Regions from separate parts of the Homo sapiens genome. Here region 2 is linked to region 1. Evidence: fine-mapped expression QTL. A gene starts in region 1. The other region holds a variant in brackets. All regions are shown on one strand. Distances are between the middles of the regions.

Region 1 (5,381 bases):
GAGAGGGAGAGAGGGAGGGAAGGGAGGGGGAGAGGGAGAGAGGGAAAGGAAGAGAGAGAGAGAGAGAGAGAGAGAGAGAGAGAGAGAAAGGATTGGCCCTAAGTAAGTGAGTGAATGGAGAGGGAGGGAGTTTGCTGTGAGTAGGGCTGTGATTAGGGAGGGAGGGACAGCCCGTTTTCTGACAGGCTGCTCTCCTTCTGCTCTTAGCTTCCTCACAGACACCTCTCTTCAAATATCACCATTTTCGGGGGTTCTACTTTCTCTTCTAAAATAAATTATCCTAATTTTGTTCACTATTTTTTTTTCTTTCTCTGCCCAGTCTCCTGGTTTCACCTTCTTCCTTTTTTGGAGGGGAGAAAAGAAACCCCAAACAAACACAGTGTCTCAATCAATAGGGATGAATTGATTGAAAAAGTGTTCCCACCGCCCCTCCACCCAGCCAAGCCACAGCCCTAGGTGGTAGAACGCCCACCTGGCCACGTGGTGGGGCAGAGGGTGCAGGGAGGTCCAGTGGACAGGTAGTGGAGGTCAGGGAAGAGGGACTCAGGGGTAACAGAGGATTGTTCTGGCCTGATGGGATCCAGGGGAGATGGTCCTTTCCCCCAATTCATTCATATTTAAATGTTCAGGTCATCAACACTGGCAGGCAATCTGAGGAGAGCGCAATGGAACTTTTGTTTGGGGTCATATAATACACTCCACTCTTCCCAACTGTGAAATGCAGCAGGGCACTGAAGGACCAGAGGGCAGGCAGCCTGTCACAAGCCCAAGTTCCAGAAGCGCTTTCTCCCCGTCGCGTTCAGCTGCCCCCTTCTGCCGGGGACCCACTCACTCTCACACATTACAGCCTACCACCACTCGCCGGACTTCACAGATAAAATGCAAAATTCTCTTGGCCTTTCCCACATCCTTTTATAAAAAGAGTGCACTCGTATGACTTGAATAACTGGTCCTATGGGAAAAGACTCTCTAAAATATATTGGCAAATTATTTTTCTCTGTCATGTGGTAGTTTTTTCAGCTTGCCCCAAGCCTGTCCCGACCAGTGCATTCATAGACAGCCTCCTTGACTGCTTCTTTTTCCCTCAAAGGAACAGTGCAGATGAAATCATCATGGATTTTAGTGTGCACAGAAAAAGAAAAATGTGAATTTTTTAACAATGCCTTTCTAAGGCTTAAAAAAAATTCTTCCCCCTCCCCTCTTTTTCATTTTCTGTCTTATTGCTTTTATCTTGCAGAAGAATCTTTAAGGGGTCCATCTGTTAAAGCGTTCCTTCCCTCTCGGTTTCTTTCCCACACATAAGCCCTCTTGGTTTCTGAAGATACACTCAGCTTATATCTGACACCTAGTGTGTTCATAGCATTACAGTCAAGCAATGCAGTTTAGGTGGAAAGAGTTAATAAATATCATTACTACAAGATAAGATCTGAGTGCAAGGGGAAGAGGGCAAGAAAATTGTGACACTAAGTTATAATTACAGTTTGCACAGGTTAACAATGCTTTCTGAATTATATATACTGTCCCCTTTTCCAAAACAACTATTTGTAAGACTTTTTCTGTTACAAGTAACCTAACACCTTTGGGGTTTCAGCTCCAGAAACATCAATTACTCCACCATTATTGTTAAAACTTTGTCAACATTGCCTAAAAAGCCTCATATTTTTTACGGGGATGGTGAAAGAGAATGGGGGAGGCAGGGGACATTTGTGTTACAATGGTTTTATAAAAAATCTTTGTGCTATAATACTTAACATCATCCACCTATTTGGAGTCACATATACAGTACCCAAAATGTTTTGCAGTTCAATTAAGTTTTACAAGAAAGTCTGAAATACAACCAAAAGTTTAATGGCTCTAAACAACTCAGGAGTCCTAATAGCAGCATTTAGATAAGTGCAACTTATCAATATTTGGATTCTCTCTGCATCTGAGTATGTGTGTGTTCCCTGAATTTACTGTTTGCGAATGTAACTCTTAAAAATAGCTTTCTCTTTGGCATATGTACTTGTATATATGTGCTGAGTGGCTTGTATAAACATATAATCTATTTGCATGCTCTAGGACTATTAAAAGCTGTATTAACCTGCCTGAATAATATAAAAAGGTACACATCACAATGCACATTGGAAATGCCAATTAGTTGTAAAATTCCTCCTAGCTTTCCTATCTTTGAATGTGTAAAGAGCTCAGAAGTAAGAGTTAAAAAGCATTACCTTTCTGGTCCCCACTCTTCCACCAGCCGGCTCTTGTATCATGTGGTAAGAGCTGTCTGAGCTCCTCTTCATGGTATTGGCACTGTGAAGTTTTATACTGTACTACTTATTTGTACACCACACATTGGTACCACTGAAACAGAGGAGGGCTGGGGCTTTGTTTGGGATTGGTTGGAATCAGCATGACATCAGCGGATGACTGGTTTTTCCAGTGTGAGACATTTCATAATTCATTATCTAATGGAAAGCCCTTCCTGGCTTCTGAGACACTACTGGGTGATGCACTGAGCCAGTGAAACCTCTGGCTAGGATTACTCTACCTTTTAGAAAAACATTGGAATCAAATAGATATGTCTCAATGAGTGTGTCCAACTTTCAACTTTTACTACTCGCACACACGTCTCGTTATATTCAGGTTCAGTTTTATGTCTTTACATAAAACATCTGTTACTTCATGAAGTTGCTTCTATTTACAAAGTATTTTATTGTTTCTTTCAGGAAAGAAAATTGGTAGTGTTCTTTATAGGGATTCTAATTTTATATTTTTAAAATAAGCTATTTCATTGAGGAAAAAAATTGGGAAAATCTGTATAATCATATGATGATGGTCTCCCCCGACCCCAACCAACTTACACTATTATTTTACATCTTGAAATTGAATGCCTGCTTCATAAATCAAGAACTTTGGAAATAGTAATTCTCTTTAAATGAACTTCATAAGTATCCTTCCCAGGTCTTTAGAATCTCATTCTAACTAACCAAACACACACACACACACACACACACACAACAACAACAACAACAAAAACCCTCATGCATCATTCTTTTTTACCAGAACTTCAACTCCTATAATTTCTAAATTGTTACAAATATAACAGCAGATTAATGAAAAGAAGTGAACACTCCTTGAAATAGGGGTAAAGCTGGTCAGGCTTTTTTTGTGGGGGAGGGGTGTTGGCAAGTCTGGTAAATAACACAGGAGGAAGGGGTCCTCTGACAAGAACGGTGAAGGGTTGTTTGAAGGACTACAGTTGAAGCATAAGCCCAGTTCTCATGACAAGTTGGATAAAATGTGCAAAATTGGGAGCTAATGAGAGCCATATGACCAGATATGTTGTTTTGTATGCAGGATTTAACATGCATAAAATAAACTTTTCACTGTGCCCACAAGCAAAATATAGAGGCTCTGGCCTCCTGATGTGTGGCTTAAGCAGGTTCCATTAGGACACCAGAAGTTTTCTGTGTAAAAGGGTCTCTCTTGGCTAGATACAGAGAAAGTGTGGGTGCTGAGCTGCATGGGGGTGGGGGGAAGGAGTATTCTAAGAACTGCATATGCAGAAATGAAGTAGGAAAAAAATCATTAGGTTGTAGAGGAAGAGAGTGAATCTGAGTGGCGAAGACAGAAATAGGATTAATGATGGTGAACTCCAAACCTGCCCCTCAGCTTAGCACTGGGTGAACTCAAACCCTTTATAAGAAAGAAACTTCTCCACCCTTTTTGCTGAGAATTAGTGGAGTCAATGACCTTCAGGGCATCTAAACTCACCCCTGACCCACACATGAACCCTAGTGTCCTGAAAACATCCCCTCCGCCTCCACACAAAGTAGTGTGTGTGTGTGTGTGTGTGTGTGTGTGTGTGTGTGTGTGTGTGTAGGTGACGTGGGGTGGGGGTGGGGGGCACAAAACAAACCCAGATCAGATCCCAGTTCCTCTGCTCACTCACCGTGTAAACTCAGGCCTCAGTGTTCCCATCTATAAAATGGGATCCATGATATGAACCTGTGGGGGTCAAGTGCAGCTGTCAGATAATAATAAGTGATACTATTTCTGAGAAGCCTGGTGGCTGTTCTTAAACATGGGTGTCACAGGAATCTGCAGCTCTCTGACCAGAGGAGCCACAACACAAGTGTGACTCTGAAACTCCGCTGGCCATCTGATGCCACCGAGTGCCCACCTGCCAGGCCAGCCTACCAGCCGTGCTGCAACCCCTCTGCAACCACCTGCACCACAGTGGCAATGCCTCCTCCCTCGGTGCAAATCAAGGTGGGGGTGGTGGAGGAAGCAGGCAGGTTAAAATAGCTTCTGTGGAATATTCTAGACTGGGAATCAGCTTTTCCCTGCGGAACTCAAGGGCCCGGGGCACAAGCTGGTCAGCCCAGTCCTGACCAGAATCTCCTTCTCCTTCCTTGGTTTGGTTTCTCTTTCACTTCCCCCTCCCCCGGAGCTTCCCCGCACCCCAGGCCCTTCGGGTCCCGGCTTCTCGGCCCTGCTACTGTACCTTGAGCAGCACCTGCTGGCAGCTTCCAGGGATCACGCCGGAACGCGGCCGCTGCTCGAGCCCAGCTCGCAGGATGCCTGGAGCCAGGGCCAAGCCGGTCTAAGCGGCAGCCTCTATTTTTACCCTGAGCACCAGCAAGGGCAACTTCTTTTAAGAGCAGCTCTTGATTTTTTCCCCCCTTTTGGCAGCTAAAGAATTCAGGGAGGGGAAAAAAATCACTGTTCAGTGAGTGCAGCTGGGAATCTCTGAACCCAGCCCTCAGTGCCAGGGAGTGAAACCACAGCAAATGTCAGGGAGCGGGACCTGCGGAGGGGCCGGCTGGCTCCCCGCGGACAGAGGCGAGCCGGGAGCGCTCGCGCACCAGCCAACTGCCCCCTTCTGAGTGCGGAGCGCGGTCCTCCAGCGACTGCACTAGCAAAGTGGCCCGCTGCCACCGCGTTATTCACCTAGTGGAGGCGGCCTGATTTACTGGCGACTTCACAAACCCAACTCCACGCTGGAGCATTTGCATGGCTCTGTTCTCGCCTCGAGGAGCAGCCACTAGCGAACCCGGTGGAGCAGCTTGCTGCGAGAAGGAGCCGGGAGGGAAACTGTGGTACCTTATTTTACTGTAATTGCAAAAGGAACGATGTGCCAGAGATTTATATTTAGAAGTTGTATGTTTCTACTTTTATGTAAATGGAGCAATTAGGGCCTGTCTTGCTGCTGCTAACTCCAATGCGTGTGCATTGCTGGGGAGCTGGTGTTTTCAATCACAATTAGTGAGCTGGTCAAAAAACAAAGTTCGTTTAAGGATAAGAGCTCAATTGTGCGAATGGGGGAGAGGCCAGCGTTCGTGTGCTGGCCCGTGGCTTACGGTGACACCTAGCTTAGGGCCACGGCCAACCCT
Region 2 (5,381 bases), 870 kb before region 1:
AGCAAGCATGTTCCAGTTGGGGGCTATAGGGCACATGGTCTTTCTTGTCCTGAGGGTCTGTGAAGCTAGCATTTAATATTGTCACAACATTGAATGATCCTCTCCTTTCTCTCCAATAGCTTTGCAGTTAAGGAATGAAAAAGAGCAGGGGATGGAGAAAAGGCATCTGGAGAGCTGGCATATTGGGGCTTCCAAAGCACCTTCATGTTGCTCTCTCTGCAAAGATTTTGTTTCCTCCTCCTATTACCGTTATATTCTAAACTGTGTCTGACTTGCTACAGTAAAAAAAAAAAAAAAAAACTCAAGAACACAATGTTGAATTAAAAAAAGATACAAAAGAATACAAAAATTTACCCTTTACATTAATTTGAAAAACATACAAAATTGTACTGTGCATTGTTATGGAGATACCTTTATGCAGTAAGAGCTAGAAAATGCATGGGAAAGACTGACCTCAATATCATCATAATGGTAAAGACCACCTCCAGCGGCGCCACAGTTCCTGACCTTCACTGAGAACTTCCCACACACCAGGCACTGTTCTCATTGCTCACTAAAGCCTCCTGGAGAAGGAAAAAGAAGCGGTTTGGACCGCATGACTTTAGCGGTTTGGGGGCATGACTTTAGTTGTCTTTGAAATGAATATAGTGAGATGGGAGACCAGCAGGACTTATATTCCGAGCACCGATCATGACCCTACTAATCAAAGCAGGATGCAGCAAAGACACCAGCCGAAACCAGCGGATAGCAACAAAAGTGACCCTCTTGCCCTCACTGCTAATAAGCATAAAGACAGTCCCACCAGTGCCATGACAGTTTACAAATGCCATGGCAACAACCCAGAAGTTTCCTTATATGGTTCCAGGAACTCCCCCACCCCTTTTCTAGAAAATTCTGAATAACCTACTCCTTAAATAGCATATAACGAAGACTGTGTATAAATATAGCTAGCCAGCAATCCATAAGGACTGCTGCTGCTGCTGCTGCTGCTGCTCTGGGCAGCTCTGCCTATGAAAGAACCCTGCTCTGGGGAGCAGCCACTTTGCCATACACTGTTGCTCTAATAAACTTGCCTTCTTTCATTGCCAGCTCATTCTTCAGTTCTTTCCTGAGCAAAGTCAAGAACCCTCCTGGGCTGAGCCCCAATTTTGGGATTTGCCTGCCATCAATTGCAAAGTGGCAAAATGTTCACAAGTTAGAAATCTGGGTGGAGTGTCAGTTATTTTATTTTCAGTATTCAGCATGTTTTGAAATATTTCATAATTATTTTAATAAAAAGAAAAACAAAAGCAGTAACAAAAAAAAGGACACAAAGAATTTTTGTAAGAAAGGGCCTCTTTTGTCATGTCACTTTCCATGCATGGAGTGGCATCTCCTTCCTCAGACCTCTAAAATGCTGTGCAGTGTCATGGTGGGTTCTCCTCCCTTTCCTCCATTCCTACTCCACAGATGACCATGTCCGGCCCTGTGCTTTCACCCATATCACTCTGTGGAGGCCTCCCCAGTGTCTCTCTCTAGGCCTGCACCCTTCCCTAGCTCCAGGGCCTGCATCACATTTCCACACAGACACCAAAAGCATATAGAAAACTCAATTCATGTAGCATGTGGCAAACTCAATCCAAAATAGAATGCTGACTTTCCTTCAAAAACCATTTCTCCCCCAGTATTCTCCCATTGCAGTAACTAGCATCATCTTTAGAGTAAAAAGGACAACAATTTGATTCTTTCTCTGCTTCCTTCTTTCTCCCACATTCCACCACCACGTCATGAGCACACCCAATTGGCTCTACTTCACCACACACACATTGAGTCAGAATACATCTGTGTCCCCAACTGCCACCACCCCAGGCCCAGAGCCTCATCTCAGGTCTGCTCTGCTGACCACAGTCACCTCCCAGTGCTTGCCTGCCTTCACCCTTGGGCTACCAGTTTCTTCTCCATGTGGCTTTTCACAATGTAAACTCCTTCACTCAAGACCTTCCAAGGGCTTGAGTACCTAGAAGTTAGGAGAAAGTCCTTCCAGCGGTTTGCAGAGCACATATCAACAGACCATTGGTCCTGCCCTCCCCTGTCCATGCCCCGTGCCCATACTTTTTGCTCCCTGCACTAGTCATGAAGACCCCTGAGGACCTCCTTGCAATGTCTCAATCAGGCCCTAGCAGACCCTGACAGCCTGGCCTTTACTCTGATTATTCCCTCTTCTTAGATGCCTCTTTCTGGATATTTCTGTGGCTCACTCCCACTCCTCACTGAGGTCTCTGCTCAAATCTCATCTATTCAGAGAAACTTCCCTGATCACTCCATCTAACAGAACAGGCCTGCCTTGATTATTTCTCCTTGGCTGGATTCATGTTTCTAAGGTGGCGCCAGGCCTATAGTAGGCACTCAACACACATTTGTCAAAACAGTGAATGATAATTATTGACCAGCTCATTGCAGCCATTCACACATATGTTGATTCATTGCTACCAGCAAAAGTCCTCAGAGGACAGCACAGAAGACAGTAACTCGGAGAGTGTGCCCAGCCCCTCCATGGGGTTGATTCTGAGACTAGAATTCAAATCCACTTATTTTTACTCTAATCTTTCCCCTGTACCACCTTGCATCTCTCAAAGGAGGAAAGTAAGAAAAAGCAACATTCAACTGTCTGGTAAATGCTGCTGAAGATTGTAATAATCACATTTACACAATTTGATCTTCACAAACACCCTGAGAAGTAATGTCGTCTCAATTTTGGAGATGAGAAAGCTGAACCTTCTAAGAGGTTAAGTATTTAGCTTAAGATCATCATTTTTAATAAGAAACAGAATGTACCCCAGGCCTGCCTCATGCCACGGCCTGTGCTTTCTTAATGACATTCATCCTGCCTAAAAGTTGCATTTTAGATTCCCGTAAAAAGCCTGTGTCCTATCAACAGTGTAGGCTCACCCAATGTTTGCTGTCTGGTGATGATTCCAACTCTGTCTTCTTCCCTCTCCTGCCCCCCTCCCTCTACTGCTGGGACTGTTCCCCAGCACTTTCACCTTCTCCTCATTGCTTAC[A/G]CCTGCTGTGGCCTCAGAGGAGCAATAGCCTTCATGGGCCACCCAGAAGTTGGATATAAGAAAACAGGTTAGGTTGGAGAGAGTGAGAGGGAGAACAGCCAGTGCTGGAAGACAGGCAGTGCCCAACTTTCAAATGGGTTTGTTTGCTAGAATTTCTTTGGAGGGCTGTCATACGAAACTTCAAACACATTTCCCCATAGAAACAATATTATCAATGATGGTTAGGGTCTTGCAGTCATCCTTGAAGCCCTATATAATGCAGATGTTTAACCAAGATGCTACTAAATACTCCCAGAATTATTGAATCTCATTAGCAAGTCAGCATCAGTCACATGGATTCTGTGGGAAAATATAACCTTGAGTTCCGACTGTGAACACTAAGAACACTTCTGTTTACATGTTACACCTCTAGATCCTATCTCTGTGTGATACTCTTCTTACTATTCACCCCAACCCCAGCCTGAATTCAGCAGGGCTGGCTATAGGCCTGTAGTGTGATGAAGGCTACCAGGCATATTAAGGAGGAAGAGAGTACAGGCTCACACACTGGCAGGACAGCCTAGAGGGGGCTCCAGGGACTCCCAGAGGAGGAGTCTTCTGGCAGGACAATAGCCTATGTTTAGAACACTTATATAGTAGTAACTCCAGTTTCAGGGCAACAGCACATGTTGGGGGGTCTTGGGTGTTGTGGTACAGTAACTTAAGTGTGCAGGGGAATGAAAGAAAGTGAGCAGTATGGAGCCTGTCTCCATTCACAAGGGGCCGTGCATGCAAATGTGTGGCTGTCCCTGTGTGCGTCCGGGTATCTCTGGAGAGCACTCATGAGATAGGTGGTGACACAGAGTCCTGAAAAGTAACCCAGAGCAGGCATCCAACAGTTCTGGTTCTTGCTCCGCTTCCTTATTTGGGGGATTCTAGGCAACATGAAACCTCTCAGGGCCTTATTTTCCTTTAATGTTAAGTGGGAAAAATAATTATCCTCCATCCTACAGGGTCATTGTGAGTATCATCTAATATCATATTGTTGTGAAAACACTGTGTCCCATTTAATGTTGTGGTAGTATTAATATTATACCAAGAATTACGTAATAGGACACATGTTCTCCCAAACTTTATATTTTTTAGTGTTCTGCACCAAACAGTTAAGAGAAGGATAGCTATAATGGTTCATACATCCACTCTGGGTTTTCTGTTTGGTTGGTTTTTTGTTTTCCAGGGTTTTTTTTGTTTTTTTTTTTTCCCGGATGTGAGCACTCCTAGCCACAAAGAATTAGCTAGAGAGGAAGATTTCAGGCCAGATATACCTATTGCTTCAGGCCTTCTTTGTTTCTTCCACTCCTACTTTTTTTTTTTTTTTGAGACAGAGTCTCACTCTGTCACCCAGGCTGGAGTGCAGTGGCCCAATCTTGGCTCACTGCAAGCTCCGCCTCCCAGGTTCACGCCATTCTCTTGCCTCACCCTCCCAAGTAGCTGGGACTACAGGCACCCGCTACTATGCCCGGCTAATTTTTTGTGTTTTTAGTAGAGACGGGGTGTCACCATGTTAACCAGGATGGTCTCGATCTCCTGACCTTGTGACCAGCCTGCCTCAGCCTCCCAAAGTGCTGGGATTACAGGCGTGAGTCACTGTGCCGGGCCTCTTCCACTCCTACTTCTATTCTGCATGCTGCCATCCCCTCGGTCCATAGACCTCTGCTCGGGCCATCATCCCTTGACAGGTCTGCATATTTTACCTCTAGATTTTTTTTTTCAGCAGTCCATTTTTTCTTGGTTGTCCCACTGGAAAGGAATCTGATCAGTACTGTTTTTAAACATTGCAATAATAGTCAGATAGATCCCATTGTAGTTGAAGATTACTGGAAGAAAAAAAGAATCCAAACTCCACATGTAGGAATGTTGATCTGAGATGGGTTGTTTTCCAAGACCCATCTTAACAAGAAACATTAACAACCCAAGGAAGTTTCCCTGCTTGGAAAGTTTTTTCCCTTTTTTTCTACCTGCTGAATTATTTCTCCCATTTGTGATGTAAAGTTCCTTACGTGGAAAGTAAACATTGACTTAACTGACTCCTGTTAAATGACTCTTTTCTGTAGGAGAAGCCAGCCTATTTAGTGCCTTGCCATTTCAACATGTGTTCATACACTTATTAGTTAATTTGCCAGATTCCCTGTTTTAAAGTCCCAGGCTGCATTGTATCTTTTGAAAATTGAAGTCATGTACACAAACCACTTTCAAGTTAGGAGAGACATTAAAAATAATTAGGTCCTGCAATATTTCTCTAGAACCATTCCTTTCAGGATCTTGGCACGTGCTACATCATTAATGCATAGCCACCTGCTT

Which allele goes with the higher level. Positions count from the first base shown, and alleles are read on the strand shown. Sizes are in standard deviations (SD) of each study's normalised expression.
As copies of A replace G in region 2, the expression in tibial nerve of the gene that starts at base 2,299 in region 1 goes down (moderate effect, 0.72 SD a copy in GTEx).

What was found. PIP is the estimated chance that this variant, and not a neighbour inherited with it, causes the effect.
Region 2: its variant is fine-mapped to the expression of INHBA in tibial nerve (GTEx, PIP above 0.99). The same link has a PIP of 0.9 or more in pancreas and testis.

The regions. Positions count from the first base shown.
Region 1 is chr7:41,700,792-41,706,172 of GRCh38, forward strand. INHBA (inhibin subunit beta A) reads right to left here and starts at 2,299. Exons shown (of 3, transcript NM_002192.4): 1 at 2,214-2,299. The region is part of intron 1 of INHBA-AS1 (INHBA antisense RNA 1); the gene reads left to right. RefSeq lists an enhancer at 4,340-4,429.
Region 2 is chr7:40,828,295-40,833,675 of GRCh38, forward strand. All of the region lies in intron 13 of SUGCT (succinyl-CoA:glutarate-CoA transferase), which reads left to right. It overlaps LOC112267984 (a long non-coding RNA gene), which reads right to left and starts at 1,798. Exons shown (of 2, transcript XR_007060292.1): 1 at 454-1,798. The variant A/G (reference allele first, on the strand shown) is at 3,042.